2 linked regions of the Homo sapiens genome follow. The protein of the gene in region 1 interacts with the protein of each later gene in a pairwise test. Each region holds a gene or a part of one and is shown in the gene's direction. Other genes may lie near its edges.

Evidence for each region. Proteins that work in one complex are often made in the same cells at the same time.
Region 2: the proteins of CEP76 (region 1) and ZNF85 interact in binary tests that used the Homo sapiens proteins (3 or more experiments, as listed by UniProt).

Annotation. Positions count from the first base shown.
Region 1 is NC_000018.10:12,692,724-12,696,223, reverse strand, and holds part of CEP76 (centrosomal protein of 76 kDa), read left to right. Parts: intron 1-872; coding exon 873-970; intron 971-3,500. UniProt on the Homo sapiens protein: Centrosomal protein involved in regulation of centriole duplication. Required to limit centriole duplication to once per cell cycle by preventing centriole reduplication.
Region 2 is NC_000019.10:20,921,907-20,926,050, forward strand, and holds the start of ZNF85 (zinc finger protein 85), read left to right. Parts: upstream 1-1,344; 5' UTR 1,345-1,494; coding exon 1,495-1,497; exon of another isoform or gene 1,498-1,510; intron 1,511-4,144. UniProt on the Homo sapiens protein: May be a transcriptional repressor.

The DNA of each region.
Region 1 (3,500 bases):
AGTAATTTAGATTTTAATAAGTCATACCAAGAATGTATTTTTCTTTAAATAAAAATTATAGAAAAAGTGTCCTTTATGTAAGAAATTTATTTTCAAAAACAATACCCAATTTGTCTTCAAAAATAGGCCTAACATGATAATCGTAGCAGTGACCTGGAAACAAGCAGATTCTGATTCACTGAAGAAACATTAAATCGTTTTGATGTGAAGTATATTTGTTTTCTAGTTCTTTAAATCCAGGCATGGATTGAAAATTTCTACTCAGCCTGTAATTGGATAATGGGGAGTGACAAATGGGAGTTACTATAAGTGACAATATAAATGCTTTCTAATTTTTAGTGTGTGTGTGTGTGTGTGTGTGTGTGTGTGTGGAGAAGGAATGAGGTGTTAACAGTTGCTTTGACTTTGAATTTAATGTAAGTCTGGTTGATATTATACATTTAATTAAGACAAAAATTAAGAGTCTCAAATCCTTTAAGTCAGAAAAGTTTCTTAAAACCTGTTAGAAAAGCCAGGTGTAGTGGCTCATGCCTGTAATCCCACCAAGCACTTTGGAAGGCTGAGGCAGGAATATCACTTGAGCCCTGGAGTTTAAGACCAACCTGAATAACATAGGGAGACCCCATCTCTACTTAAAGAAGAAAAAGAGTGTCAGAAAGCTAAGAAAATAATCTCCTTATAATTAAACACCTTTGTTTAAAAAAATTGATTTGGTTCATTTTAATATGAATATTAAAGGTAATGTTGAATGTTATCTTTATTCCATGTAAGTGATAAAACACCCAAGTGCCTAAATTATTTTGGTTAGACTTTGGTTGACTAAATATATATAGTATTGAAATCTCTGAAGTTCAAAATATTTATGTTTATAGGCACAGAATCAAAAGTTTCTGTGGGAATTTTAAATATAAAACTTGAAATGTATCCACCACTCAATCAAACGTTATCTCAAGAAGTAGTGAACACACAGGTAAATACTTATGAGTTTCTCTTTTTTTGTGTGTTTGTTTTCATAGTAGTATATTTACCTGTTGATCCTAGAAAGCACTCTATTTTTAGAAAATTACCATTTATTACTTTCTAGATTAGCACTCAAAGGTTCACAAAAAGGATGAGGAAGAAAATAAAGACAAGATTGTTTTCCTAGCAGAATCTGTAGTCTAGTTTAGGAAATACGATGAACATTTATTGAGACAGCATAAGAATTACAGGATAGGCCGGTGGCTCACGCCTGTAGTCCCAGCACTTTGGGAGGCCGAGGCGGGCGGATCACAAGGTCAGGAGATCGTGACCATCCTGGCTAACACGGTGAAACCCCGCCTCTACTAAAAATACAAAAAAAAAAAATAGCCGGGCGTGGTGGCAGGCACCTGTAGTACCAGCTACCCGGGAGGCTGAGGCAGGAGAATGGCGTGAACCGGTAAGAGGAGCTTGCAGTGAGCCCAGATCGCACCAGTGCACTCCAGCCTGGGCAACAGAGCAAGACTCCATCTCAAAAAAAGAAAAAAAAAAAAAGAATTACAGGATAAAGCTGAAGAAGATCAAAGAGTAAAGTGCAACCTCAGTGGGATGGGATTTTAACGTTCTTTCGCAGGCGTTTATTGAAAGCTTGCTGCTTATGTCTTTTCTGCTCTGTTCTCTCAGGGTAGAAGTGCTTGCCACTTTTAGAGTGTGTTTGGAGAGGCTTTTTTCCCTAATTCCACTGTCAGGTCTCTGATGAATTACTTTCTTCCTGGGTCTTAAAAGATCGGCAGATTTTTTCATTCCTTCACATTGGATTTGCCATCCATGTTTAGTTCTTGCCAGTCTTTAGTTTGGAGGTTCTCATTATCTGCTGACTTGCCGGGATGGCACTTGTGGAATGGTTCTCCTTGATTACATACACCACCCTTTACTCCACCCTGCCTGTCATATTGTTCCTTTTACAGACCTGTGGTTAGACGCTAGTGCTTCTCCCTCAGGCAAACAATGTCCTGCCCTGTTTTCTTTAAACTTTTTTTCCTTCCTTTTGTAAACTCTCATCTCCCTCTAATCTCTAGCTTCTGACATGTGTCATGGGTGGTATATATACCTGAAACCACATAGTGAGAACCAACTTTGATGTTACTCAAATAAATACCCAGCCCTGTGGGAGGCTAAGGTGGGTGGATCACTTTTGAGTCCAGCAGTTTAGGACCAGCTTGGGCAACATAGTGAGACCCTGTCTCTACAAAAATTTTAAAAAATTAGTCAAGCATGGTGGTACATACTTGTAGTCCCAGCTGCTTGGGAAGCTGAAATGGGAGGATTGCTTGACCCAGGAATTTGAGGTTACAGTGAGCTGTGATTGTACCACTGCACACTAGCCTGGGTTACAGACTAAGACCCTGTCTCTTAAATAAATGGTGTATACACACATATACATTATGTGTATACGTGAGGGGTTTTTTTGTTTGTTTTTTTCAGACAGAGTCTCGCTCTGTCGCCAGGTTGGAGTGCAGTGGCGCAATCTTGGCTCACTGCAACGTCTGCCTGCCGAGTTCAAGCAATTCTCCTGCCTCAGTCTCCTGAGTAGCTGGGACTACAGGTGGGTGCCACCACGCCCAGCTAATTTTTGTATTTTTAATAGAGACAGGGTTTCACCATGTTGGCCAGGATGGTCTCGATCTCTTGACCTCGTGATCTGCCTGCCTCGGCCTCCCAAAGTGGTATACATGAGTTTTAATCATGTTATTCATATATTTATGTGACATATAAAGTAAATGTTTGGGCTCTACTTTTTTGGGGTAGTAGCTTGTTTTTTTTAATTAAATTTTATTTTTTTAGAGACAGCATCTCACTCTCTCAGGCTTGAGTGCAGTGGTGTGATTATAGCTCACTGAAACCTCAGACTCCCAGCCTCAAGCAATCCACCTGCCTCAGCCTCCCAAAACATTGGGATTGCAGACATGGACCATTGTGCCCCACCAGGTTCTCCTTTTTAAACTTAACATTATTTTATATGTATTTTCTTATATTTCCACTGTCATATTTATAATTTCTAGTGACTAAAACATAAGTTTATTCTATTATCTGATAAATAAATTGCTTCTAATTTTCTCTTTAAAATTGCACTATTAAAACTTTTAGCCAGGCTAATTAATCTGTAATCCCAGCACTTTGGGAGGCCAAGGTAAGAGGATCACTTCAGGCCAGGAGTTCAAGACCAGCCTGGGCAACATAGGTAGACTTCATCTCTACAAAAATTTTTAAAAATTAACTGCACATGGTGGTGCATTCCTGTAGTCCCAGCTACTGGGGAGGCTGAGGTGGGAGGATCGCTTAAGCCCAGGAATTCGAGGCTACAGTGAGCCATGATCATGCAGTAGCACTCCAGACTGGGTGACAGAGCAAGACCCTGTCTCTTAAAAGAAATTAAAGTCAGAAATATGTATGGATCCTAAATAGATGTCAAAATGTGCTAGACACTGTTCTAGACACTGGAGATGTAGCTGTGTATAGGGCAGCAGACAGCTAGACAG
Region 2 (4,144 bases), on another chromosome or scaffold:
ACCTAAGGTCAGGAGTTCAAGACCAGCCTGACCAACATGGAGAAATCCCGTCTCTACTAAAAGTACAAAAAATTAGCCGGGCGTGGTAGTGCATGCCTGTAATCCCAGCTACTCGGGAGGCTGAGGTAGGAGAATTGCTTGAACCCAGGAGGCAGAGGTTGCAGTGAGCCAAGACCACACCATTGCGCTTTAGCCTGGGCAACAAGAGTGAAACTCCATCTCAAAAAAAAGAAATGCCGAAATACATGTGGACATGTATGCATGTGATTGTGCTTATATTCACTCAGTTTCCCACACCACAGAAGAAAACAGGTAACCACAGCCTGAACATTAGAGTCGAGGTCAAATAGCAAAATAAGTTTGCCTTTAATCTATTTTCTTCCTATGTAAACATTAAAGGTCAAGACTGTGAACAGATCTGAAGACATAGTTTTTTTTCTCCTGTGGCCCATCATCCTTTGCTCACTGTCTGATCTCTGAAAGAAAGATGGGCAACAGGTGGTAAGCAGTGGTTTACCTGTGATTTATTCCTGCTGCCATCAGCTTTTTCTATAGCCACTATTTGTTTCACCCTCGGAACTGAAAAGAGACGTTGATAAATAGAGGCTGTCCCCTCACCTGTGGCAGAAAAGGGGTGTTCAGGCCCTCCACCCCCACTGACATCACAGCTGTACTTCAATGTGGCAGCTATTGGCCATGTGTGGCTCCTGGGTGCCTGGAATGTGGCTGGTCTGAACTGCGATGTGCTAGAAAGGTAAAATACAGAATTAGTTTCAAAGATTTTGTTTCAAATGTATTTATATTTCATTAATAATTACATATTGCTCACATATTAAAATGAAAATATTTTGAATATATTGGGTTAAATAAATTGCTACAATCAATTCCACTTGTTTCTTCTTTCTTTTTAAAGTTTGGCTACTAGAAAATTTAAAATTCACCTGTGACTCACATTTTATTTCAGAGGATTGCCTGTTCAAAGGACCAGAATACAGGAAGGTCATAAAATCTAAAATTTTAGAACAATTGTTGTTATACTTTGTTCATTTGTGAATAGCCATATAATATATTATTTTTGAATGCATATAAATTGATACACAAGGTAAGGGCAAATACTCTCTGGTGTGAGCCTGGCTCAGCTCAGGAAGGAAGCCCTGTCTGAAAAGGCTGCAGCCTAGGCTGTCACTCGCTCTTCTTTCAGCCCAGCATCTGATCACATCTTCTGTCACTCAGGGCCTGAAAAGAAGGTGCCTTAAATATCATCCAATCAGAGACGCTGGGCTGGGAACCGTCCAATCAGGAACGCAGCTGGTGCGGATAGGGCGGCTTCCGGGATGTGGCGGGGCCTTTGTCTCTCGCTGCAGCCTGAGCTCTAGGTCTTGTTTTCCCTGCTTTGTGTTTTCTGCTCGTGGACGCCCAGCCTCTGTGGCCCTGTGGCCTGCAGGTATTGGGAGATCCACAGCTAAGACGCCGGGACCCCCTGGAAGCCTAGAAATGGTGAGAGTGCCAGGTCCGCCATCCCGAGGGGGAAAGGGGTTGGTTGAAACCGGTGGGAAGCGGCTGTGGCGGGACTCAGGCCTCCCTGTAGTCAGCTCCACAATCTGCGCTCCAGTTCTTTTTGCCCAGCTCGGCCCCAGTTCCTCCAGCCATAAGATGGCGGCTGCGCTGACAGCCGGCCCGGGCGTCCTGTCTCTTCCCTGCGCAGTGACTGTGCCCTGGACTGGAGCCCTCTCTGGGCAGCTCTGCATTCGCAGCACCGCGTCTCTCCCAGATTGAGCAGGGACCACGGGAGGGTTGTCAGGGGAGAATCCTGACTCGGGGTGCGGGTTCATGAAAGAGCTTTGGGCTGTGGGGTTCCCAGTTCCTCTTTTTTTCTGTTAAAAATGTATGGGGGGACGGGCGTGGTGGCTCACGCCTGTAATTTCAGCACTTTGGGAAGCCGAGGCGGGCGGATCATCTGAGGTCAGGAGTTCAAGACCATCCTGGCCAACATGGTGAAACCCCGTCTCAATTTTTAAAAATACAAAAATTAGCCGGGCGTCGTGGCGCGCGCCTGCAATCCCAGCTACTCAGGAGTTTGAGGCAGGAGAATCGCTTGAACCCGGGAGGCGGAGGTTGCAGTGAGCCTACATCGCGCCACTGCACTCCAGCCTGGGCAATAAGAGTGAAACTCCGTCTCAAAAAAAAAAAAAAAAGATGTATAGGAGTCACCGCAAAAATATTAAAGAACTTAAAAAGTGGTTCAAGTATTGTAGAGCACTCAGCTATGGTTTGTAGTTTGTGGTCCATGGGAGGAGCTTGAATAAAAGACTTTTATAAGGTGCATGATAAAAAAATCAAATTAGTAATTGGTTAGGTACAGTTATATAGTCTCTTAATTTGTACGATCGTGTTGGCAATTTTCTGGTTATGTGATCAGAATTTAATTGGCAGTTTATAGTTGGTTAAGCCTGAATTTTGTTTTCCCCGATGTGGTAATTTACTAAAAAATGAAATTTTAGTTAGATTTTTTTAAAAAGGAGGACCCCAGGGACTAGAGCCACCTCAGTCTAATTGCCTGCCACTGAATCATTTTCACAGTCCACAGGGGACTTCTTTTCCCCTGCATTTTTCACATATGTCTCAAGCAGGGTCTCAAGTCTACTTCTTACTCCCTGTTCTTCCAGATTAACTCTGATTTACAGTAAAATACTAAATTTCCAGTGTCATTGACATTCCCAAATGCCACCTTCCCCTCTCTGATACACATTATCAATTATTTGTCCTTTATTGTACATTTTATATTTCAATTAATAATTCTTCCACAAAACATTGGATGGCACTATTTAAAAAATTGTCTTCTGTTTGTAAATATTTCCCATGAGAAGAAAGTGAATAATAATCCCTGACACCATATTGTAAAAAAATCTCTGTGTCTCTTTTCCTTTTATCTTCCCTAGGCACAGAGTTCTTATCAGAATATTGGTGGGTCAAGGTTTCCGTTTGGAGACTTTATGGTGTGATGGGTCATCAGCCACTCTTCAGTTTTTTCCTGGTCCTGGGTTTTCAGTACTGTATGGGGATAAACCAGGATGCCCACCATTGTGGCTATGTTGGCTAGAGTGTCTAGTGAATATCAGCTCCTGGGTCATTTTCTCTCATAGGACAACCTGAGGTATGAAGTGTATCCTATCAAGGGAGCAGGTAGATACCCAGGGTCTGAGTGCAGTCTCCTGGTGTACTCTTCCTTTGAAAAGCTAACTCCTTGAGACATTAAAATTGACTTCACCCAGCTGGGCGCGGTGGCTCACACCTGTAATCCCAGCACTTTGTGAGGCCGAGGCGGGCGGATCGCGAGGTCAGGAATTTGAGACCAGCATGGCCAATATGGTGAAACCCCATCTCTACTAAAAATACAAAAATTAGCCAGGCCTGGTGGCACACACCTGTAATCCCAGCTACTAGGGAGGCTGAGGCAGAAGAATTACTTGAACCCGGGAGGTGGAGGTTGCAGTGAGCCAAGGTCATGCCACTGCACTCTAGCCTGGGTGAAAGAGCGAGACTGTATACAAAAAAAAAAAAAAAAGATTGACTTCACCCAACCCAGCTTCTATTTCTTGGAGACACATTGAGAGAAAAATGCAGAAATAATTTTTACCCCCTGGATTCTCTAAGATTTGTGAAAGAAAAAATAGTATCCCAAAAGACAAAAAAAAGGTCACCCCAGTGAGATGGTGCAAGAACTTGCAAAGTAAAATGCACTTGGGGCAGTCACTGGGGCATAGTGTAGTGTCTCTTGAGAGGTTGGTCATTGAGAACTTTAGTGAGCAGGAGCGGGTGGGAGAATCTTTCAAGTGATTGAACGGCCTGACTTGACACATAGGTCAGACACATCTCTTTTCTAATCAGCACTGTCCCTCTGTGGGTTTGTCACCTTGAAAAGATTTGTTCACTTATTTTGACTTCAGCTTCTTTTAATTGTAAATTGCATTTGATTAGTAAAGTTTAAAAGGCACAAAAATATTTGCACAGGGTGTAAAAGAAGTGGGTTTTAGAAAAAAATTAAAATCTAATCATATATTCCATTTGTTAAGAATTCTCATTTACTTGTTCCTTTGTCAGAGTGAGTTTAAAAATTTTCTCAGGTGTGCTTATGGCTGGGTGA